7 linked regions of the Homo sapiens genome follow. The protein of the gene in region 6 interacts with the protein of the main gene of each other region in a pairwise test. Each region holds a gene or a part of one and is shown on either strand. Other genes may lie near its edges.

Region 1 (3,500 bases), on a different chromosome or scaffold from region 6:
AAAAAAACCCAGCATGGCCACGGCAAACCAATGGAGCAAGTGAAGGTCAGAAAGATGGTCAATGTTTTAAGGTGACAGACATAGCCCCTCAAAAACTTGCTTAGAGTTTCCATCTGAAAGTTACACTCAGTGCTTAAATTAAGAGATTATCTGTAAATACGACTGTATTTCAGTTCAGGGAACAGCCAGAACTCTTAAGGCTGGCCTGGATCTAATCATAGGGAGACGGTATGTTGAAAGGTATATACTGCCTGGAGATACACTGATGGTAGAGTCAGTGCAATCCACACAGGGAGAAATCTGTCTGGCCCTCTCCAGGGCAGAGACATGTCCAATACAACAGACATGACCACAAGAGTCACGAAAAAAGTACTGTCCTATATAGCACAGGGATAATGTACCAGAGCTCACCATATACAGTTCCAAGAGCCACCCCCTTCTCTACTCTATGTTCACCAAGCAATCTATATATGTCATTTCCCAGCAACCCCAACACCGGATAGAAGTGCCCTAGTAATGAGACATGACTATGACTACACACTGGTCACTGGAAAGGAAAATCCTTCACATAAGAATAGACAGACACCTGGTTTACACACCTGTCCACTATAGGCTTGCATAATGTGGGTCAGTTACCCTCGAACAATTATAAAACCAACTTTAAGAATTCAGAAAACTAATGATTACTAGATGCTAGACCATGAAAGGTTTATTGAAGTAATGGTATCTTTTGAAAGGCTAACTATATTCGATTAACAATTATGTTTCCTTGATAAAAATTTAATATAAATTCTAAAGGCTTACTCTGATTTGATGAATAGATTTGTATTTTTCTGGTACTGATAGTTCTCCAACAGACTTGATTATAGCTACTGCTTTGCTATCATCTGATGGATCAGAGCTGGTGCTATAGGATCCATTTTCATCACTGTCGGGCATCTCTTCCTCCTCTTCACTATAACTTTCATCAGAATTCTCATTTAAAGGAGATTCTGAATTTTCTTCCTTTTTAGGTTCATCCAATTGAAAAAGTTCTGAAAGCATGTAATTGGCGGAAGCAATAATCTTATGAAAAAGAGAGAAATATGTGTAAATTACTGTCATCAAAAAATACATGAATTTTACTACCATACTAACGAATTTTAGGAGGAGGTCTGCACACAGGCTGTTTCCACCATATAGACTGTAACACACACAGAAATGTTCCCAGTTCAAAGCTACTGATACTCTGGGTATGCTCTGCAAAATCTTTATAGGCTGATGCATTTCCTATTTCCCGAAATTACTCCACCCTGAGCCCTCCCTCTTAAAAGGTGTCAACTGAATTTCACTGGAGACAAACAAAAGCTTTTGAGTACAGAGTGTCATAACTAAAATATTAACAAAAATTTAATACCACCCTATGCCAAGTGAGAAACCAGAATTTTTCTTTACAAACTATAAATTAATTCAAGTTTCTCTATAATAGGTAACTAATATTTATCATATAATCTATGGTTCTAGAAAAAAAAAACCATTACATTAAAAAGGGAAAAGTCCATTCTGATATCTCTTAAAATTAGCATTTATATATGACCATTTAACCCATTCTACTATTTATCAGTTCTTAATCACAGACAATAGTCTTTAACACCATTTCTAACATCCAAATAAACCACTCAAGTTCCACTAAACACTGCCACCTCAGTCAGCAATTAGGTATTTCAGTCAGAAACAAAATGTTTTACTATTTTTCTTCAAAAACATTTCTGAGTTTGGTCTCTAGGATAATCTTTATCTCTAAATCAAATGTGGCTACAATTAAAATTACTTTGGCTCTTCAAAGAAAAATTGCGTATCTTACATACCTTTACTGATTTGAACAGGATACAACAAATAGCCTTAACAGTGAAAAATAAAGTTGTCAATCAGACAACCGAGGGTAAGGATGGTGTAAAACTGTTGGGAGCATGACTGAGGGAATATTTTAAGAGATGCTTTTTCCCCTTCTCTTTAAAAGAAATTTTACTGGCCTTTATTTAAGAGATGCTTTAATATCCTGAAGTGTGGAATGTGAACCCTATTTATATTAACAAAGTGGTAACAAGGTCTAATAGCGACAAAACAAAGAACTAAGGGCACTACTGTTAGAATTACATGAATTCTAAATTCATTGAGCAGTGCTGTCTGAGAGAAATGTAACATGAGTCACATACAGAAATTTTAAATTTTCTAGTAGCTACATTTAAAAAGTAGAATCTGTGAAATCAACTTAAATATATTTAATCCAATATATGTAATATTGCATTTCAACATGTAATAGGTACAGACATCCAATCTTCAAAATTCAGTGTGTATTTTACACTTACAGCACATGTCAATTCAGACAAAGCACATTTTAAGTGATCAACAGCCACATGTGCTAATGGCTACCACACTGAATAGGGCAGTTACGGAATATGAATCAGGAGGCTTTACTGTCTAGGTAACAATCTCCTATTAGAATGCTAGGATTGTTTTAGAGAATACATAAATGTTAATCTTACTTGAGGATGCCTACTTTTGTCCAGTAATTTCAGACAATTAAGAAGCAATGTTCTAATAGTTCCATAGTGTTTCTTATTTTGATTCTTCTTCATCATCATGTTGCAAGCAACCCTAAAAAAAGAGTTTATATCAACTTTACTGCCCATTTCATCGTTGTCTGCAAGACTCAAGTCTAGGAGTGCTCTTGTTTCTTTCCAACAAAGAGCTATAAGAAACAACAAAATACTAAACTTTACACTTTACCCACAACCCCCAAAACGTTTATACTATGGTGGCATAAGAAAGCTGAGTAATATTTGGTACAATGTGTACGTGTATTTTTCCCCCTACTATGAAAACCTAAAAGCATTTAAAAGCCTTGGTTTGGAAACTGTGACTGTATGCTTTAAAACTTTATATAATAGGCTACTTCTTCATCTTAAATTCTTAAAGCACTCACTTGTACAAGAGAATGGCTACCGGCATTGTGAATGGATTTTGGTATTTGTCTTCAGTTTCTTCACAAAGAGTAGTGAGGTCATAGAGCTTCACTATATCGCTGCCACTTGCTGAAAAGAAAAACAAAGAAGACTCATTTCACAGCAGTTACCCAAATCAATTATTGTTCACTCAAGAAGTATTAATAGCTTACCTTTAAAGAGCCAATAGGTATGTCCTTCTTTGGTACAATTAGATTTCAAAAATGATAAAATATTCTGTGCAATGTCTTTTATGACTTTAGTAGAAAAATTAGAATTTTCCAAATTGGGAATTTCTTCTGTCTTTATCATTTCATATTTCTGTAAAATACAGACAGATGGAAAGCAGTTTAAGAGAAAACCCAAGGAAACAACACCTTTCTTTTTAAAAAGCAACCAAATGCAGAAGTCCTGCAAACAGAGACCTATGTAGCATGAAAGTGTTTAAACCAGTGGTTTTTAATCTTTTTTCTGCCCCAGCCTCCCAAAGGAATCTCATCCACCCCATCAGCAAGG
Region 2 (3,500 bases), on a different chromosome or scaffold from region 6:
TGACCATTCATTCTAGACTACATCTTCTCTAGAGTCACAAGAACAGAGACCTCATCTATGTACTTCTGTGTATGGAGAACACAGCACTCCCTGCGCAAATACCTGAAGCCAAGGAATTTTTAAGATGACTAGTAGAGTTCCCACCTATTCTCCATTTATGCATACAGTCAAGGAGCCAGCAGTTCCTTGAGGCACTGTAGTTTGGTAAGGATGAAACAGGGGCAGCTACAGGGCTGCTACCTAAGATTTCACTGCTTCAAAAAGCCTGAAAAATCTTTGGTCTTGCGAACCGATCCAGAACTAGAGGTACTCAGAAAGGGGGCTGAATTCACTTACACTCAGGCTGATTTCAACACTGCCCTTAACATAGACTAAAAAACAAATTATAAAACACCTGTCAACCACATCCTCCACTTCCTAAAGTCATGGGAGTGAATTTGTGGGTATTAGGAAGAAGCTTATGCAGCTTAGTTTCTAACTCCAGTTCTAATTCTTGGCATCACCAACAACTCTGTTCCTTTGCTTCTAATTCCCACCTCTCCTTTTTGCTTCTCGTTGCCACTTTCTGTTTTCAGGCCTGACCTTTGCCAACAGCCTCCCAGGCAGCCTCCCTGCCTTTGTTTGCACCATCCACTCCTTCCCCTCACCCACTAGAACACAAGCACTCCTCAATCAGACCTTCAAAAATACTCCCTGCTATTCATGACATAAAGATGGCAACAACAGAAACTGGGGGCTCTTAGTGGGGTAGGAAGGGAGGTAAGGGTTAAAAAACTATCGGATACTATGCTCAGTACCTGGAAGATGGGATTAATCATACCCAAAACCTCAGCATCACACAGTGTACTCTCCGAATCTAAAATAAAAGTTGAAATTTAAAATAAACAAAAAACAACAACACCTGGGTTCAATGGCTCATATCTGTAATCCCAACACTTTGGGAGGCCGAGGTGGGCAGATCACTTGAGGTCAGGAGTTCAAGACCAGTCTGGCCAACGTGGTGAAACCTGTCTCTACTAAAAATACAAAAATTAGCCAAGCATGGTGACACGTGCCTGTAATCCCAGGTACCCAGGAACCTGAGGCAGGAGAATTGCTTGAACCAGGGAGGAGGAGGCTGCAGTGAGCCAAGATCACGATACACTACAGCCTGGGCAACAGAGTGAGACCTTGTCTCAAAAAAAAAAAAAAACACCAAAAATACCCCGTGCATGTTTTGCCTCTCCTGTTTATCAATCCCCATCACCTTTCCTTTGCCAGGGAAAATGAATAAGACCCTCAGCCAGGCCTGAAAGGCTGTCCCTTGCCTTTCCACCTTTAGTTGCCAGCTAATTATGAGCTATGATTACGTCTGTGCATTCCAACTAGAAAATATCATCTTCTACCCCATATGAACCTAAGAGGAGAGATTCCTCTGAGAAGTTTCCCCCGGCACAGAAAAGTACCCATGAATGAATGAATGAAGTAACTTTCCCACTCACTGTTTAAGGCCTGTATCACACTCTAGCTAGAACAATCACTAGACATCAATTTTTTCTCCTTTCTAATGTGGACATCTTAGCTTCTGGAGAGCAGGGTCTATTCCAAAAGTCTTTCTTTGAATATGCAACATATCTGGCATGGTGCCTTGCATACAGTGGACACTCAATATGTGTTTATGGACTGATCAACCATATAAAGCTCCAGGCCTCTGGCCAAAACAGGCTACAGCTATAGCTACTGAGAAGAATTTCTTATTGTTTTCAGCAAGCACTAGCTATGTCAGAGCCTACAGTAGTAAGAAAATAAACTATCCCTTGATACTGATGCTTTACAGGAAATCAGAAGCTGTGGATATTTGGAGAAAACAATAACAAAGAAAATTAATCTTTCTAAGCTCCAAAAATTATTCAACATTTAGTTTAATCCTGGCATTTGATAGAAAGCTCAAGTCATGTTCTCTTTCATCTAAACAAATTTTCATAGGAAAATACTTCCCTTTGACTATGCTACAGCTACTTCTGATTTCTCTAGAGCTGGAAAGTAAACAGGACTGGTGCTACCCTCGGCTTCACGGAGCTAATGCCTTTTCCAAAAGGAGTGAAACATACACTTCTCAGCACTCCAGATGGAGTAGATAGGAGTGAGTATTGGCCCACTCCCATTTCTATATCACAGTTCCCTCTTTCTATTATTAGTTTTCTTGAGAATATTATTTACTATTCAGTTCTGAGCTATTTCCTTTGCCTTCTGATGAACAGCTAAGCAGCCAGCTTGATAATAACCTTGTGATCCAGCTTCTTCAAATCTGCCTCACTAAGACTTGGGCTTTCTTTTGCAAAACACTAGGTGTCCTTTTAACATTGCCACCGGCCACCAGAAATTATCCAAGTGTCTAAGTGGACTTTTAAAAGGTTAAGTCCACTTCGTAGCACACCAACCAAAATTTCAATCTTATGCCTGAAGACTATCAAGTACTGTATCTACAGTTAAATAATTGTTTTAATTTGTTATTTTGCTTCACTGCAGAGCAGGGTGGTGGGCGGGTCGGTGGTTGGGTTAGGAACCAAGGAGGGAAATTAATGCAATGAAGAAAACAAATCTACAGAGATTCATCCCGAATCAGCCCCCAACTGGGATACTGGGTCAGAGCAGCCTGAAGTGTTGGTATATGCTCAGCAGTCCAAAGACATGGTTCTCAGGAATCCAGTTCCTTACAACATAACCCTAACTAGAATCTCCCTCATCCACCCCTTCCAGGACCACACATTCTAAGCAAAGAATGTCAACTAGCCAAAAGAAAAGGAAAGCAGGCCGATTTTGAACACTTTATGTCTGTGTGACCTTGAGAAAACTATCTAACTTCACTGGGGTTTCTTCATCTATGGTATATTTCATCCTCATAAAACCTCATGTGGAATTAAAATCCCCATGAGCAGATGAGAAAACCGAGAGACAGAGAGTTTAACAATTGGCCAAAGCTGCCCAAATTATCAGAATCCAAATTCTTTATCTTTCCACTTCTCAGGGCCCCTGCACTGCCCTGCCTCCCAAATATCTAAACACAAACAAGTCAATCAGTGCTAGGACCCGGCCACAGGCCCCTGAAAAGTAAAGAACTGATGCTGCCATCTCCTGTGTCCACAGCTACAATAACACCTGGTAGCCTTACAAATATTTAGATGCAATTTCAAAGTCAGCTCATAGAAAGAGGCATAAAAAAGAAAATGTATTATGGTCTTAATTCCCCTACATTTATAGTTCTCAACTGAGAATGCCAAGCCCTCAGACGCTCCCCCACGCCCTTAACAAAAAAAAATACTTCTTTTCTTCCAGTTAAGCCAAAATAAATATATGTACCCATCATTTATTCAATCAACCACATTTATGGATTACTATGGTGTCCAAGGAAGCTCTGAGCCAAAATAAAAAAGAGAAGGGAGAAGGCTGGCCTCTCCAAAGAGTAAAACCACAGCACACCCAGGGTGGGCCAGAAGCCTGGGAGTCCGCTCCTTGCAGCA
Region 3 (3,500 bases), on a different chromosome or scaffold from region 6:
CCCCTTGGTACCGTTTCCAGCTACGCCAGCCACAGCAGGCGCTCAGGAAGTGTTTCCCCCATTGCTTAGCACGCAGTGGGCACTCTCTCACTTGGCATCTCTTCCCTGCAGATGGTGCACACGCTTGCCAGCAACGGGGCCAACTCCATCTGGGAGCACTCCCTGCTGGACCCCGCACAAGTGCAGAGCGGCCGGCGTAAAGCCAACCCCCAAGACAAAGTCCAGTGAGTGGGGCTGGAGGGGTGGTGGGCAGAGACTGCGCAGTCCGGGACAGGGCCCTGGGAGGTGGCAAGGTGACCACCCTCTCCCACCATGCTCCCCATTCCTCCTGTGTGCCCCATGCAGCCCCATCAAGTCAGAGTTCATCAGGGCCAAGTACCAGATGCTGGCATTTGTGCACAAGCTTCCCTGCCGGGACGATGATGGAGTCACCGCCAAAGACCTCAGCAAGGTTTGAGGGGCCCTACAACAGATGGGTGGCCCCCTCCTCTTCTTCCCATCCACGACTCTCTGAAGGCCTCTCCTTTGTCCCCACTGAGCCCTGGGCCCCAAAGGCAGCCAGGTCAGGGTAACAGTAGACAGGGTGGAGAGAGCAGATTGTTGGGTCAGGCCGTGTGTGGCTGAGGCTCCCCAGCAACCAAGTAGACACACAAGGCTAGAAGCCCACAGCTGCCACTCAGAAGCTGGGAAAACCTGGGGGTAGTTGCTTAGCCACTCATAGCCTCAGTTTACTCATCTGTAAAATGGGAAAGAAATAACAGCATCTACTTCATAAATAGTATCTAAGCAGGGCACACAGCACACGTGGTAGATGGTGACTGACGGCAGCGTTTATTAATTGGCATTAACCCCTAGCGGGAAGCCTCTGTCCTCCCGACATAGTCTGGTTTGGGCAGGCCTCCTTGGAGCTGCTAGGTGTCCCAGGGGCAGCCAGGGTGCAGCTTGTGGGTGGGGAGGTGCGCCTCACGCACATGCGTATTCACTGCACACTCTGCTCCTCTTAGCAACTACACTCGAGCGTGCGGACAGGCAACCTGGAGACATGTCTGCGCCTGCTCTCCCTGGGTGCCCAGGCCAACTTCTTCCACCCAGAGAAGGGCACCACACCTCTGCACGTGGCTGCCAAGGCAGGACAGACACTGCAGGCCGAGCTGCTTGTAGTGTATGGGGCTGACCCTGGCTCCCCTGATGTTAATGGCCGCACACCCATTGACTATGCCAGGTGAGGGTCGGCTGAAGGGTGCAGTGTGGGTGGGTGGGGGTGTGGGTGAGGGCTGCTGCTGCAGGTCTGAGCCATACCCCCTCCTCACAGGCAGGCGGGGCACCATGAGCTGGCGGAAAGGCTGGTTGAGTGCCAATATGAGCTCACTGACCGGCTGGCCTTCTACCTCTGTGGACGCAAGCCGGGTGAGCAGAGCTTGGGGGGCGCCTGGCTGTGACAGGCCTGGCTGGGGCTGGGCAGGTGGGACCTGGACGCACCCGGCAGCAGGTGCCATGGTGACAGAGCGGCTGGGGAGCAATGTTGCTAGGCAACTGGCTCCTGTGAAATTACTGCAGGCTCTGGGCCATAGCATCGCTGGGGCTAGGGAGTGGGGGTGGGCATCCTGCATCCTCCCACGAGCTCCCAGCATTCTTGGGGGTGGCCTGCCCTCCCCACTTTCCCCTGACACTTCTGGGTGCCAGCCCTGCTCATGGCAGTGAGGTGGGCTCCCAGCTGCTGAGGCCACCCAGCACTAGTGAGTGACTTGGCATTTTTATTTTTGTTCAGATCACAAGAATGGGCATTACATCATCCCACAGATGGCTGACAGGTGAGTGCCCACCTGATGCCCCTTTCCAGAGGCTGTTGGATGCCATGTGGGTGGCTGACCCCCAGAGCTCCCAGCCCAGGTTTCAGAGGCCTAGGACCCTGCTCCCTCCCCCCAGAGACTAGAGGCACAGCTTAGTCCTCAGTCCCTAATGCTGGGCCCCAAGGCAGGTAAAAAATGTCAGCTCCATATGTGGCCCGCATAGCCTGAGCCCCGTGACTGTCAAGTACATGGAGGGCTTGGGTGTGAGAAGCTACCTGTGGGCCGGGCGCGGTGGCTCACGCCTGTAATCCCAGCACTTTGGGAGGCCGAGGCGGGCGGATCACCTGAGGTCGGGAGTTCAAGACTAGCCTGGCCAACATGGAGAAACCCCGTCTCTACCAAAAATACAAAATTAGCCAGGCGTGGTGGCGCATGCCTGTATCTCAGCTACTCGGGAGGCTGAGACAGGAGAATCGCTTGAACACAGGAGGTAGAGGTTGCGGTGAGCCGAGAGCACGCCATTGCACTCCAGCCTGAGCAACAAGAGCAAAACTCCAAACTCCGTCTCAAAAAAAAAAAAAAGAAAAAGAAACAGAAGCTACCTCCGGCTGGGAGGGTGGGCCACTGGGTTCTGTCCCAGTGGCACCGACCCCACTGTCTTTAGAGAAGCCTCTGCTCTTCGCTGAAAAGATGGGTGGGCTTCAGGGATGTGACTAACTTTGTGACTGCTGGCTAGGCCTCTAGCGTGCTCAGAATTAGGCACGTGCGCTGAGGCTGGTTGAATGAGGTGTTTCTGCTTCCGTCTGAGAGGCAGTGTGGGACACCCCCTGCCACTCACCCAGCACATAAGATGGATGCTGGTGCCACCTGGTGGCCACCTCTGATGGCCATGTCCTCATGCCAGGCTGTGCCTGCTGGCCTGGATCTGGAGAGAGGAGGTGCTCTCCTCCCCAAGGGCCTGTGTGGGCAGATGGGCATAACCAGGCCTGGGCGACTCAGATCCTAAACCCAGACCTCTTCCAGACCCCAAGGCTCCTACTTCTATGGTCTGATTCTACCTGGGTTGTGTGTGCATGCGTGCATGTGTATGGTAAATACACCCAAATATGGGCTCCATTCAACAGCACATTAACTGAGCACCTTCCCGGAGCCAGCTACTGCTCTTGGCACTGGGAGCACAGAGGCAGCTGAGACACAATCCCTGCCCTTAAGGAGCTCACAATCTAGCTGGGGAGGCAGCCTAGCCAGGTGATTCTAGTCCTCATGGGGGAGTGCAGCAAGAGAGGCAGAGGCATGGAGGGTAGAAATGCTGCATGGGAATGGAGGCAGCCCCCGGGCTGGAGCACAGCATGGGAGGCAGGGAACCCTACAAGCAAGACTGGGATAGAGACGAGCTGGAGAATGAGCAGCCCCGAGAGCATCAGCAGGAGCAGTGACCATCCCGAGAGCGGAGAGTTCCAGGCACAGAAGTGTGAAGTCATCTCTGCTGCTTACTGGCTGTGTGACTTGCAGGCTGCTTGACCTCTCTGAGCCTTGGTTATCTCTCCTGGAAATGGAGATGACAGCATCTATTTTTCAGGGAGGAGAGGATTAGATAAGAATGTATGCAAAATGTTTAGCCTTTTTTTTTTTTTAAGAGTTGGGGTCTCGCTCTGTTGCCCAGGCTGGAGTGCGGTGGCTTGATCATAGCTTACCACAGCCTCAAACGAT
Region 4 (3,500 bases), on a different chromosome or scaffold from region 6:
GTCAATTCTAAGCCAAAAGAACAAAGCTGGAGGCATCACGCTACCTGACTTCAAACTATACTACAAGCCTACAGTAACCAAAACAGCATGGTACTGGTACCAAAACAGAGATATAGATCAACGGAACAGAACAGAGCCCTCAGAAATAACACCACATATCTATAACTATCTGATCTTTGACAAACCTGAGAAAAACAAGCAATGGGGAAAGGATTCCCTATTTAATAAATGGTGCTGGGAAAACTGGCTAGCCATATGTAGAAAGCTGAAACTGGATCCCTTCCTTACACCTCATACAAAAATTAATTCAAGACGGATTAAAGACTTAAACGCTAGACCTAAAACCATAAAAACCCTAGAAGAAAACTTAGGCAATACCATTCAGGACATAGGCATGGGCAAGGACTTCATGTCTAAAACACCAAAAGCAATGGCAACAAAAGACAAAATTGACAAATGGGATCTAATTAAACTAAAGAGCTTCTGCACAGCAAAAGAAACTACCATCAGAGTGAACAGGCAACCCACAAAATGGGAGAAAATTTTCACAACCTACTCATCTGACAAAGGGCTAATATCCAGAATCTACAATGAACTCAAACAAATTTACAAGAAAATAACAAACAACCCCATCAAAAAGTGGGCGAAGGACATGAACAGACACTTCTCAAAAGAAGACATTTATGCAGCCAAAAAACACATGAAAAAATGCTCACCATCACTGGCCATCAGAGAAATGCAAATCAAAACCACAATGAGATACCATCTCACACCAGTTAGAATGGCAATCATTAAAAAGTCAGGAAACAACAGGTGCTGGAGAGGATGTGGAGAAATAGGAACACTTTTACACTGTTGATGGGACTGTAAACTAGTTCAACCATTGTGGAAGTCAGTGTGGCGATTCCTCAGGGATCTAGAACTAGAAATACCATTTGACCCAGCCATCCCATTACTGGGTATATACCCAAAGGACTATAAATCATGCTGCTATAAAGACACATGCACATGTATGTTTATCGCGGCACTATTCACAATAGCAAAGACTTGGAACCAATCCAAATGTCCAACAATGATAGACTGGATTAAGAAAATGTGGCAAATATATACCATGGAATACTATGCAGCCATAAAAAATGATGAGTTCATGTCCTTTGTAGGGACATGGATGAAATTGGAAATCATCATTCTCAGTAAACTATCGCAAGGACAAAAAACCAAACACTACATGTTCTCACTCATAGGTGAGAATTGAACAATGGGAACACATGGACACAGGAAGGGGAACATCACACTCTGGGGACTGTTGTGGGGTGGGGGGAGGGGGGAGGGATGGCATTAGGAGATATACCTAATGCTAAATGACGAGTTGATGGGTGCAGCACACCAGCATGGCACATGTATACATATGCAACTAACCTGCACATTGTGCACATGTACCCTAAAACTTAAAGTATAATAATAATAAAAAAAAAAGAATGAAGTTTTCTAAACACTTTTCATTAGCTTTTAAAGCAAATGAAGAAGGCAACATTTGGATCACTTACACCCTCTCCGAGAAAGACCCCAGCAGAAGCACTGGTAAGGAGGCCCAAGTGCAACATCTGGCCAGGGGCTTTTTACACTTAAGGGAACTTCAGTGAAGTCAATAGCAAATCAGGTGGTGTCTGCAATTTTCTTTCATAAATAATCATACATTGTAAATATTATTTGGTCACAAAGATGTAAGTTTTAGAAGCTTTTGCATATAACATATTGACAATGATCCTCATCATTTTTATTAAGCTATGGACATCATGACTGGAGCATTCTGATTTGTCTCCTGTTCCCTCAAGTTTGTTGAATTAAACTGTTGTGGCTTGCTACTCAAAGAGAGGTCGCCAAGCTAGCAGTACTGCAGTCACCTGGGAGCTTGGCAGAAAAGCAGACTCTGAGATTTCATTGGAGACCTACTGAATTTTGGCAAAGACCCTGGGTGACTGGTATGAACATGAAAGTTTGAGAAGCACAGTTATCCAGCTATCATGTAAATGAACTGCTGTTAGCCAATTACTAAGGCTTATATTTAGTGAGAATAACCAATTAAAAAATGTGACATGTAGCTTTTAAGACACTTCAGAAGGAAATATAACATAATCTGAGGTAAAAGAAAGCATGCCTGTTTCAGTTCAGCCTCATTTAAGATGTCTTCTCGCTTTTTTTTTTTTTTTTTAGTATGACTCATTTCTTTTTCTTCATTCCTGTCGCACATCTTACCTCCTCCTCACTTTGTGAGTCAAACTTACCTTCAAGCAACTTAGGCAATCTCTGTGTGTCCTGAGAAAATGACAATGACAATAGCAGGATTGGGAAACCAGAAAGGCAGAACTTGCCCCACTGACTTTATTAAGTTCAGTTCATGTTCAGTATAACAGTTTAGAGCTTACAGATGTTGCGTCGTGACCATTGACATTTACCACCAACCTATGAGGTTGGCAAAACAAGTAACATCATCATCATTTCCCACTTAGAGCTAAAAAACCTAAGATTTCAGAAGATTCAGTGGCACATCCAGCAGCCCATACCAAACAACAGGCGGACTGTGGTGAGATGCTGGTTCCTGACTCCAAACCTTAACTCCTTCCCTGGACTGAAGCCTCTATCAGCAGGGGTCAGAGAGAATGTGGTTATGAGCATCACTAAGGTCAGCAATAAAGTGCCTGTCTCTTGGATTGGGAGTCTTCTGTATGCAAAATGCTCTCCTATACCTTATGGGAAGGGATAAGGTCAAAGAGTCTGCATCGGAGACTTTGCCTGCCCAACCCCCAGGCCTTGAGCATGATCACATGCTCCGTATGTTTTCTTCCAGAAGAAAGGATTTTCAATCTGCATTTAGAGAGAAGGAAGAAAATGGTATGAGCATGTGGAGGGGCGAGGCCTTTCAAGAAGCATGGAATTCCACCTAGGATTTTGCTTGTATGTTTGTTGCAGATGCCAAGTGGGCATGAGAAAGAAAAGCAATTCAGGAGGGGGAAGAAGTGAGGACTTGCATCTGGTGCTGCTTCACCATGATCATCATTTTCACCATCCTGCTCAAACACTCCCAGCAATCAGACTCTATGTTCAGTACTTCACATTGATTTTCTCAATTACTACTCAGACGTCAATCCTGGAAGGTAGGTATGTGCTCCCATGTTAGAGATGAAAACACTGAAGTAAGAAAGACCACAATATTTGCTCACGGTCACAGAGCTACTAAGAAGTGCAGTGGTTTATACCTCAGTATTTTGGACCTTGGAGCTCAAATATTGAGCGATTAAGGCTACTGTTTCTAATGTTTCATCCGTATCCACATGCCCTGTCGTATGTCCAGGGTCCTTGATTCCACCTCTTAAATCAGAACTGCTGAAGATGGGCTCCAGGCAGCTGGAACCTACACATGACGCTAGTTAATCTGATAAACATTGAAGACAGGGAACTGCTGCTGTAGGTTATTTGACCTCTAACTGTACATACATTGG
Region 5 (3,500 bases), on a different chromosome or scaffold from region 6:
CAGTGATGTTAAAATGATTTCCAGGGTGTGCGGTTAGCTGAGGGTTAGAGATGAAGGCCAGTGAAAGTTCCCAGGAGGCACCTGCAGAGCAGCTGCTGCTGGTCGTGCCCTGCTGGAAACCTGAGTTCTCCAGGTGCTGGGGGTCCAGAGGCCAAGGAACACCTGGAAAGACACAGACACACCTTTCCCAGCAGATTTTGCTAATTCTAAAAATATGTTCATGAAGTAGCATAACAGTAGTAATCAAAGTGTTAGTGAGGTGGGTAACATTGGCTGACCACCTACTGTGCGCCAGGTTCAGCGCTGGAGCCATGCACCCTTGCTTCCAGGATGTGGTCCTGGACCCCCTAGGCACTTGCTAGAAATGCACACTGTCTGGTCCACCACACACCTGCTCAGTCAGAGTCTCTGGGGCAAAGCCCAGGAATCTGCATTTTGAGGAGGCCTCCAGCTCCTCATGGATGCTGCTGCCATCACCCGGGAGGGGCCGTGGTGACCTGTGCTGCAGTCTCGGCTGGGAATCTAATAAGAAGTGGGAAGCTGCGGGATGTCTTTTGGAAGAAATGACCCCTGGGCTTTGGTTGTGGTGTGAAAGGAAGAGGGAAGGGAGGGATGCCCTGGGTTCTGATGTTGCTCGGTTGTGAATATTGCTGTCTTACATGCATTATCTCATAGGAACTCCATGACATGGGTGCTGAAATCAGGGTTCAGTGAGATTGAGAGATGTGCCTAAAGCCAACATTGGTGAGCAGTAGGCTGGAGCTAGCAGGATGTGCAGGTTCGGAAGCACCTGCCTTCTCTGGGGGAGGCATCTGGCTTGTCCCTGAGCTGTGGGGTGGGGGTGGGTGGGCAGATGAGGGCAGCATGTTGTCTACAACTTCATTTTGCCCAACAATGTTCCATCCAGCCCCCATTGCAAGCACGCTTTGTAAACCAGTTCATACAGAGGAGGATGTGGGTGTGTGCGATTAGGGTGGTGTGGCTTCATCTAGGAACTGACATTTGTGAATGATACTGAGGATAGACATGAATCCCATAATTGGCTGAGTGGCTGCTGTCAGCTAGTTAATGCACACACTTTATCTTATTTAATCTTTGCAGTGAGTCCAGAAGGTGGAAAATTATTATCTCCATTTTACAGATTAACAAAACTGAAGTTTCAAGGGATTTAATAAGTAACAGAAATCACAGAGGTAGCAAGTATGGGCACATGAGGGAAATATTAATATTTCTAACCCTTAAAGCCATATTTTCTGCAATGTAGCTTTGACTTTTATCTGTTTGCAAATGAAAATAGAACCACAGTCCTTGCTTCTAAATTCACCATCCCCCCACCCTGCTTGGAAAGGCTTGCAGGGGAGGAAAGCCTGTCTGAGCATGGTGTGGCATTGGTCTTCATGGCACTTCACTCCATCCCATGTGATGGGGGCAGCCGGGGACCAAAGCCAGATCCCTGCCCCCAAGGTGGGCATTGGGCCTGGACCTGCGCCGGGCAGGCCCGAGGGTTCCTGTGTTGACTGTGCTGGCAGATGTCTTTGCATCCAAGCATTTATTATGTCTTGATCTAATTTCATTTCATAAAATGTTTCTTTCCTTTACTAACTGCAACATTATAACAATAATTAAATGAGAAAAGGGTATTAGGAAGCAGATTATGAATTTTATGAATAGTACCAGCAAAGGGAATTGGGCAAACTAGGGGAAAAAAGAGAATCTTTTTATGGTACTGAAAATCTAGAAGAGTGCAACCTAGCTAATAGCAAAGCCCCTTGGAATCCATTCATTTACCCACTGATTAGTGAACACCTCCCACGTGTTCAGTAAGTGCCAGGCATGCAGCAGTGAACAGAGCAAACCAAATCCCGCTTGTCAGAGCTAACGTGCTCGTCGCCTGCCTCTCTTCCTTGCAATGTCAGCTTTACTTTTCTCCGTTTTACTCACTGGCTATTAGCTGCGGATGGACATGGGGAGCGTGGAACTGGGAGAAACGTTTTTAACAGGGTGGCCGTGGCGGGGCTCGCGGAGAGGATGGTGTCTTCTGATAAAGCCGCCAGTTGAGCCAGGGGGAGCCCTTGGGGAGGAGCTTCCAGACAGAGAGGCCTGCAGTGCCGAGGCCCTGGGGGGAGCACGTGGGGCAGGTGGGGCCGGCGCGGCGGGGCTGGGGGCCGCGGGTGTGGAGTGGGGAATGGGGGTAGGGGTAACTAACAAGGCGGGGCCAACAGGGGCAGACCCCGAGACTCTTTAGGCTGTGACCGAGCGGGGCTTCCACTTTGGGATAAGAAGCCTCGGGGGTTTGAGCGGAGGAGAAGCCCCTGTGGCCACATGCTCCCGGGAGCCTTCAGAGAACAGGGCGGAGGGGGAGGCGCAGGGCGACGACGGCAGTGGTCAAACGCAGAACCGTGGAGTCCTGTGCTGCAGGAGTGGCTGGGAATTTCATAAGCAGTGGGGAGCTGCGGGGTGTCTTCTGGGTGAATGACCCCTGGGCTTAGGTTGCAGTGTGAAAGGAAGAGGGAAGGGAGGGATGCCCTGGACCAGGGGTTTCCTGCAGCCGGATAGGCAGCACCTGCAGCGGGGCCTCTCAACTCCAGGAGCTGTCGGCCTCTGCGTGGAGGCACTGAACCATGGGGGCTCCAGGGAGACGTCTGGGCCGAGGGTAGGAGTGTAAGGCCTGAGCTGGGGATCAAGCACCGGCGCGGTGATGAGGGGCCCGTGGGAGCATTGACCGCTGATGAGCAGCTTCAGGCATGCAGGGAGGGACAGCACCGAGGAGCGGACTCCAGAGCAAGAGGAAGGGAACCATCCAGCGATGCAGAGCTGCACTGCTGGGACTTGGATCAGCAGGCACAGCAGAGGGGCGCGGAGGGACTTGTGGGTGCTGGGGACATTCTCTTTCCTGACCTGGGTACTGGCTGTATGCTTGTGGAAACTCATTGAGCTTTATTTACACCTTCGTGTGTGTGTGTGTGTGTGTGTGTGTGTGCACTTTTCTGTAAGAATACTATACTTCAATTAAAACATTTAGAAAATGCACGTATTTGGGAGGCCTAGGGAGAAGAACTGCTTGAAGCCAGCCTGTGCAACAGACCCCATGTATACAAAAATTTTAAAAAAAAAAATTAGCTGAGCGTGGTGGCTCATGCCTGTGGTCACAGCTAGTCATGAGGCTGAGGCAGGAAGATCACTTGAGCCCAGGAGTTCAAGGCTGCTGTGATCTATGATCCCACCACTGCACCCAGGCCTGAGTGACAGAATGGGACCTTGTCTTTAAATATACATATGGAAGTGCAAAGAGAGTAGCTGAACATAGTACATCTAGTTATCTTTTTTTTTTTGAAGAGTTTTGCTGTAAATGGAGAGTGAGAAATGGGATGCTATTTAATGAGGTCATGTCAAGAGTGTTCTTTTGTTTTTTGTTTTTGCTTTTAAGTGGGAGAAATGATAGCATACTTGTTCATAATGAAAATGACCCAAAAGAGAGAAAAATAGATGTTGTGAAATAC
Region 6 (3,500 bases):
TGGCTGGCAATATTCCTCTTTTCCTTGTGAAATTCTTATCCTTCAAGACATAGCTCTACTCTTACTTTGCCTCTGAAGATTTTTTCAGCCCCTGGGGCAGACTCATTCACTCTTTCCTTGGCGATAGTAGGGCTTTTGTTCCTACAGCTAGTAAAGCACATTGAGTGTGTAGGTGTGTTTAAATGGGTCGGTCTTCCCAGCCAGATTGTCAGCTCTGGGAGACCATGTATATATATTATCTTTGTTTCCTCATTCTCAGTATAATGTCTGGCACAAAATAGCTATTAAATGTGTATTGATTTGAATTGAATCTGATTCTTTTTTCTGGCCTAAAATAACTTTTTTCTTTTGGTTTCTTAGAAAAAAAAGTATTTTAGAAAGTGTTAGAGACTTAAGAATGAGTTTATTATCCTATTTTAATATATGATCCATGTAAGATGAAATTATAAAAGTAACATATATTTTGACTAAGGTCAAAAAAATTATATCTGACCAAAATCACGTCCTCTGATCTGACAGGATTAATTCTTCATTAAATATATTGAGAAGGTTGTCTAATTCTAAATACCAGCCAGTTGAAGAGACACTCAGAACTAAAAATATAGAAAACCCAAACCTTAAAGATTATGCTTGAGGGTAGTATAATCCTTAGAGAATAAAGGCTATTTTATGCATAATAATATCAATGTATTTTTATCCATTTTACCTTCCTCATCTTCACACAGAATGTAAGTCAGATTTTTTTTTTTTAGGGTATGTATTTAGTTAAACAAATCATTGCAGACCCAGATATCTTTCATTTCATAAGTATGGACACATTTTGTAGTGTTAAATACCTCTTATACATGGCTATTTTTGGTTTAAAACAAGGAAAGTCAAGCTACAGGATAAGAGATGATGAATTGCTATATACTGTAAGCTCTGAGTATTTGTTGCTCAAAGCTATATTCCATCCAGTCTTTTGGCGTGTTGCCAGCACATTTTAGTTCTCTTACTTCATCTTCTTTAGAGAGGCTGTTATGTAGCCTGATACTACTACCACCAATTTCTAGTTTTGCTACTTAAGCTGTTTGTGAGCTGACCTCACCATACTGCTTTGAGAACTATGATGAAAGTTACAACTGGGGAATGATCTGTCTGAGTATTTGGAAGTGTTTGTCTTTGCATCTTTCTAGCATGCAAGGAGGGAATAGACAAATCTTAAATGTTATGTGAATATTTCTTGTATATATTTTTTCATGGATAAAAATGTTTATAATTGCTTGTGGGGGTTTTCTTCCTTTTCTACTTTGCATAGTAGAGGATAGGAGTATTTTTAAAATAAGAATTATATTTGAAAGTGCATATAAATGACATTTAACCATACTAGTGTTTGAAAGGACCATCATTAGAATAAATGTCAAACTTACTTTTATGAACAATAAGTATGATCCTAACCCTGATTTGATGTCAGATCTATTATTTGAACACCCTTTTTGCTTGAGCATTACATAAATAACATTTCTTTTTTCCAAAAGAGACAAATTAACTTTTTTTTTAATATGAGGAACTTGAGTAGATTAGCCTTTAAAAAGAACAATTAGTGCCTTTTTAAAACTTGAACCTAACTAAAAATAACTTTGTACCATATTTAAACTAATTTAGAGGTATGCTACCATTCTGTGGGTATTTTTTACATTTAAGGAACTAAGAATGAACAATGGTATAAATCTGCCAACTAGATAAGTGTCTAGCAATGCAAAAATTGCTGTTTGGGAGCGGTGTTACTATTTCTACTTGTTGAAGTAATTTAATGGTTGATCTCTAACGGTTGAAAGATCCAGAAGTGTAAAACTTAAGATAAATGTGGCATAAGTAGAAAGTGAAACAGTAGGTGTATTCCTGATAGGTAACAATTAAAAAAAATCTAAATAGTTAAGCAGTTTTTCAACTGTTTAGGTTGTAGAAATCTGAACTCTTTATGACAGCTTGGCTGAACTGCCCTTTGTTTAGAATGTTATGTTGGTTTTGTTGTGATTGTATTTCTTAGTTTGGATGTTGACCTATAATTTGAATCGTGGCATTTAGTAAAGGTGGGATGAAATATATGCAGCTTCCCTTAGTTATGTTAAATGTTAATAGAAAGGGGTATGCTCATACTGCTTCAAGTTTTGCAGCCCTTTTACAATTTCATGTAGCTATAGAGTTGGTCTTCCAGTCAATTTCAGGTAATTTTAAAACTGAAGAAATGGTCATACTATATTTTATTGCTAAGAGATTAGGAAATGAAATTTAAAAAATCTTAGTATAGTAAATATTATTGATATTGTTGATAAATACTGTTGATATTACAGTGAAAATAGTTTATATTGTTGCTCTCAGCAGAATCAAATTTGGATATTTTATTTAGTGCATACTACAGGGGAAAAAATAATGTGTGAGATTACTTTTGGTGTGAGAGTCACATTGCAAATGCCAATTTATAAATTCATTTTATACCCTCTTTAAAGGTATTAATCTGTATTTTAGAGAAAGTGAAGCAAAGATAGTTGTCAAAAGTAAGATGAGATTACTTTTTAGATTTTACTTGAAGAAAGAGAAGTTCTTGGTGTTCAGCTGCTTTTACTAATAGAACATGACCCACCCTTCTTGTGTTTTTATACAGAGCCATTTAAAGTCATGGCTTTCATTGCCCAGAGTTCTAAGGGAAAACAACAACATCTTTTCCTGTTGTGCAGGGAAAAATGACTTAAGTTTTGTTGACGCTGAATATGTATATAACCCCAGATGGGCACACATTCCTCTTGCACAGATTTAGTACTCTGGGGAGAGGAGATTTTTAAGTCATATTCTTAATTTCCTTAAGTTGTCAGTGATTTAAAAACTTGATGTTCATTATAACTCTGCTCTACTGCTGTCTAGAATGACATCACTGTTTTTGTGCCAGAGGGAGTTAACAAACATTTGCGTAAGAATTACATAGTCCTGTTTCTTCTGCAGACGAGTACTTTTTAATAATTATTTCCCTGCTTCCCCTCCCATATGCCCCAGTCTAAAGATTCTCACCAAAACACAGGAAATTAATTTTGAAAATGTTATGCTAATTAGATGTCTATTGTTAAAAAAGGGAAAAGTCTGTTATCTTGGAGAGTACAAACATACTAAAATAAACTTGCTATGGGGTTACTTATTTTAGGCTTTGGACCTGTTTTAAAAACATAAATGTAATTGATTCATTTAGCTACTTGGTGGACTTTGCTTGCTTCTGCATTTCCTGACATCAAAAGACCTGGCCTTTTTTTTTTTTTTTAACTGACAAAGGATTAAACAAAATCAGCCTTTGTTGTATGAAAAGTAGCAGTCATTTGCGGGATACTACAGTGTTTTCCAGTCAATGATAAGCAACTGAGCGAAAGGTGAAAAGTACCATTTGCTTGCTGTTCCTATGTAAAAATATTAAGGTAGCAGCAGTCTTGAACTGTTAACTTTGTCACTGAGGAATTGTGTGCTGTAACTGACTT
Region 7 (3,500 bases), on a different chromosome or scaffold from region 6:
AATAAAGAAGGAGGTAGACCATATTCAGGGAAGGGAAGTTGGTATCTCTCAGAAAGTGTTAGATGTGTACACTTTTTGCCAGTGTTCTGAGACTTCCGTTTTCAAGGTTCTGTGCAGCATTGGGGCAGCTATTTGTGTTTTAAGTTTTGTCACGTAAGATAATTACCTATCCTTGGCATTAGCTGTAGTCAGATGCTTTTAGCTAATAGTTATGATTCACCCTTACAATGACAAACCAACTAGGTTAGAAACTTTAAGGTAATTTTTTACCTTTTCTTTAATTAGCACTTTTTTTTATTTTTGAGACAGAGTCTCGCTCTGTCACCCAGGCTGGAGTGCAGTGGCACAGTCTCAGCTCACTGCAACCTCCATCTCCTGGGTTCAAGTGATTCTTCTGCCTCAGTCTCCCAAGTAGCTGGAACCACAGGCACGTGCCACAACTCCTGGCTAATTTTTTATATTTTTAGTAGAGACAGGGCTTCACCGTGTTAGCCAGGATGGTCTCGATCTCCTGACCTTGTCATCTGCCCACCTCGGCCTCCCAAAGTGTTGGGATTACAAGCATGAGCCACCGTGTCAGCCTAATTAGCACTTTTGATTACCATCCAACTCACTTTACCTCTTCCAAATATCCAGGACAATATCATAATCTGAAAATTTTTTTGTGGACATAAAACATTTTTCATAATATTCCATTACCATAGAAATTCTTTATTATAATAATTCTTGTATTCAGCTCTAAAAAATGTAATATACAAGTTACATGAACAATTGTAGCTAAAAATATATACAGCAATTAAAAGTTTTTTAAAAGTTCATGTACATATTATGAATTTTAAATATGGAAATATGTTTTAATTCAATATTCTATTTTTGTAGAATTTTGGACAAAGTGTCCTGCTAAGTTCAAGTGAGCCAAAACAAACTACAAGGGGTACTTCTTATATTGAAGAAGGTATGTTTTAGTTTAAACATTTTTCTCTGATCTTTGTTCCCAGTGATTTTTTTTCTTGTATGCCTATTCTCAGATGCTAACGTATTATGTAATTGTTAAAGCACCATTTAAAACCTGAACTCTCCTCACCCCTGCACATCCAGGTCATTGTCAGTGTTCCTTTATTCTAAATAATAATGTATTGAACATCTTTCTACATCAAGTTATTTTCTGATTTTTACTTATTTCTGTAGGTTAGATTTCCAGAATTAAAATTACAGTAACTGACATGTAAATGCCACCCAGTAAATATTTATTGAATTAAACTCCATGTATTAAATGAATACTGGATCAAAAGAAATAAGCATTGATATGGCTGTTCATATATATTGCTAAAGTATTTTCCGGAAAAGTATTATTCAAAATTGTTCTAGTAGTGTGTGTCCAGTGGTGTATGTCAACTTGAGGTAGAATCTTTTCATATTTGCTATAGACAGAAAAATAGTATTATATTAGTTTTGATTTCTATACCTTTCATTAATATTATGCTTAATTGCTTTTCTGTGTATTTTTTGGTGAACTGTCTCTTTGTACTCTTTTTTCTTAGATATTAGAGTTCGAAATTTTCTTACTGATGTCTGCAAATTATTTAGCTATGAAGGATTCTAATTCTTATATTAGTTGAAGATGTTTCATTACTACTTGCATGTTATTCTACTTATATTGTATTTTCACATATATTTTAATTTGTATCTGTTCATTCAGTAAATGATTATTGAGAGCTAATCTTCTGCTTACAAGTAGGTATTGGATATACATGTAGAATATCCCTAATCCAAATATTTCAAAATCAAAAATGCTCCAAAATCCAAAATTTTTTGACCCCTGACATGATACCACAAATGGAAAATTTTACACCTGACTTCATATGATGGGTCACAGCTAAAACACAAGCTCATACCATACAGTTTATTTAGCATCCCCAAGGGGAAAAAAGATCCTCTCAGCCCTCTTCAGCTGCACTATATCTTTCCCATGCACACCCAGATTCCCCCATGTAAGCATGCTCACAAGGAGTAATAAAATGATACATGTACCAATGGCAGATTCCCCACGAGACCCCACATGGGGCCAAGACCTACATGCATTACTCACTGTATTTTTTTGCTTTTTCTCTGCTTTGTGATGTAAAGATATTGTTGAAAATATCAAAAAGACCTGAAGATACCCCTGTGGGTAGCAGTGATAAGAAAAAGAGGAAACATTTCTGTTTATCAATAGCCCAGAAAGTCAAACTTGGAGAAACTACACCAGCAACCTAAGTGTAAAATGTCTTATAGAAAAGGATGGTGTTGGAATGACCACAATATATGACCTGAAGAAACAGAAGGATAAACTGTTGAAGTTCTGCTTTGGAAGAGATGAACAGAAGTTAATGCAAAACATTAAACACTGCATAGGATTTCAACCATGAAGTCAAAGAGTGGATCCATCAGCGTCGCATGAGCACATGCCACTTAATGGTATGCTGATCATGAAACAAGCAAAGATCTATCATGATGAACTGAAAATTGAAGAGAACCATGAATATTCAACAGGCTGGTTATAGAAATTTAAGACACAGCATTATTTTTAAAGATTTGTGGTGATCAAGCGTCTGCTGATTACAAAGCAGCAGAGAAATTCATTGAAGAGTTTGCCAAGGTCATCGCTGATGAATATCTGACACCAGAAGAAGTATATGTTACTGATGAACATCACTGGTTTGGTGTTGTTACTCAAAAAAACATTGACTATAGCTGATGAGACAGCCCCTACAAGAATTAAGAATAACAGAATAACTGCTAGGATGTGCTAATGACTCAGTCACGCCCAAGTGTAAATTTGCTATGATAGGCAAAAGCTTGTGTCCTCACTGATTTCAAGGAGTGAATTTCTTACCAGTCCATTAATGTGCTAACAAAAGGACATGGATCACCAGGGACATCTTTTCTGATTGGTTTCACAAACACTTTATATCAGGGAAGCTGGATTGAATGATGACTGCAAGATTTTGTTATTCTTTGACAACTGTTCTTTTCATCCTCCAGCTGAAATTCTCATCAAAAATAATCTTTATGCCACGTGCTTTCCCCCAAATATTACTTCATTAATTCAGCTGTGTGACCAGACTATCGTTAGGTAGATGAAGAGTAAATACATATAAACACTTTCTTGAACAGCATGCCAGCAACAGTGAACAGAGATGTGGATGTAGAAGGTTTTCAAAACGAGTTTAGCATGAAAGATGCCATACATGCTGTTGCAAACACTTGGAACACAGGGACTAAAGACACAATTGTGCATTCCTGGCACAACCTCTGGCCTGCAACTATGTTCAGTGATGATGAACAAGGTAGTGACTGAAGGATTCTGTATGTCAAGTGAGAAAAAATTATGTCTGACCTCATTACGTAAGCAAAAAAATATACCTTCAGAGTCTATCAGTAAGCTGGAAGAAGTGGATATCAAAGAGGTTATTAACATCGATAATAAGACTCCAGGTGTTTTCATTGACCAATGATGA

Evidence for each region.
Region 1: the proteins of PFDN1 (region 6) and EDRF1 interact in a two-hybrid assay, tested with the Homo sapiens proteins (one large-scale study listed by BioGRID and IntAct).
Region 2: the proteins of PFDN1 (region 6) and CCDC85A interact in a two-hybrid assay, tested with the Homo sapiens proteins (one large-scale study listed by BioGRID and IntAct).
Region 3: the proteins of PFDN1 (region 6) and GIT1 interact in binary tests that used the Homo sapiens proteins (3 or more experiments, as listed by UniProt).
Region 4: the proteins of PFDN1 (region 6) and PTN interact in a two-hybrid assay, tested with the Homo sapiens proteins (one large-scale study listed by BioGRID and IntAct).
Region 5: the proteins of PFDN1 (region 6) and SYNDIG1 interact in a two-hybrid assay, tested with the Homo sapiens proteins (one large-scale study listed by IntAct).
Region 7: the proteins of PFDN1 (region 6) and CEP126 interact in a two-hybrid assay, tested with the Homo sapiens proteins (one large-scale study listed by BioGRID and IntAct).

Annotation. Positions count from the first base shown.
Region 1 is NC_000010.11:125,733,209-125,736,708, reverse strand, and holds part of EDRF1 (erythroid differentiation-related factor 1), read right to left. Parts: intron 3,306-3,500; coding exon 3,158-3,305; intron 3,075-3,157; coding exon 2,966-3,074; intron 2,638-2,965; coding exon 2,526-2,637; intron 1,066-2,525; coding exon 805-1,065; intron 1-804. UniProt on the Homo sapiens protein: Transcription factor involved in erythroid differentiation. Involved in transcriptional activation of the globin gene.
Region 2 is NC_000002.12:56,186,990-56,190,489, reverse strand, and holds part of CCDC85A (coiled-coil domain-containing protein 85A), read right to left. Parts: intron 1-3,500. UniProt on the Homo sapiens protein: May play a role in cell-cell adhesion and epithelium development through its interaction with proteins of the beta-catenin family.
Region 3 is NC_000017.11:29,579,649-29,583,148, reverse strand, and holds part of GIT1 (ARF GTPase-activating protein GIT1), read left to right. Parts: intron 1-111; coding exon 112-224; intron 225-345; coding exon 346-451; intron 452-808; exon of another isoform or gene 809-1,004; coding exon 1,005-1,222; exon of another isoform or gene 1,223-1,312; coding exon 1,313-1,407; exon of another isoform or gene 1,408-1,768; coding exon 1,769-1,811; exon of another isoform or gene 1,812-3,044; coding exon of another isoform or gene 3,045-3,358; intron 3,359-3,500. Other genes in the region: TP53I13 (tumor protein p53-inducible protein 13), read right to left, coding at 3,045-3,358. UniProt on the Homo sapiens protein: GTPase-activating protein for ADP ribosylation factor family members, including ARF1.
Region 4 is NC_000007.14:137,333,734-137,337,233, forward strand, and holds part of PTN (pleiotrophin isoform 1 precursor), read right to left. Parts: intron 1-3,500.
Region 5 is NC_000020.11:24,588,129-24,591,628, forward strand, and holds part of SYNDIG1 (synapse differentiation-inducing gene protein 1), read left to right. Parts: intron 1-3,500. UniProt on the Homo sapiens protein: May regulate AMPA receptor content at nascent synapses, and have a role in postsynaptic development and maturation.
Region 6 is NC_000005.10:140,293,102-140,296,601, reverse strand, and holds part of PFDN1 (prefoldin subunit 1), read left to right. Parts: intron 1-3,500. UniProt on the Homo sapiens protein: Binds specifically to cytosolic chaperonin (c-CPN) and transfers target proteins to it. Binds to nascent polypeptide chain and promotes folding in an environment in which there are many competing pathways for nonnative proteins.
Region 7 is NC_000011.10:101,981,010-101,984,509, forward strand, and holds part of CEP126 (centrosomal protein of 126 kDa), read left to right. Parts: intron 1-879; coding exon 880-955; intron 956-3,500. UniProt on the Homo sapiens protein: Participates in cytokinesis. Necessary for microtubules and mitotic spindle organization. Involved in primary cilium formation.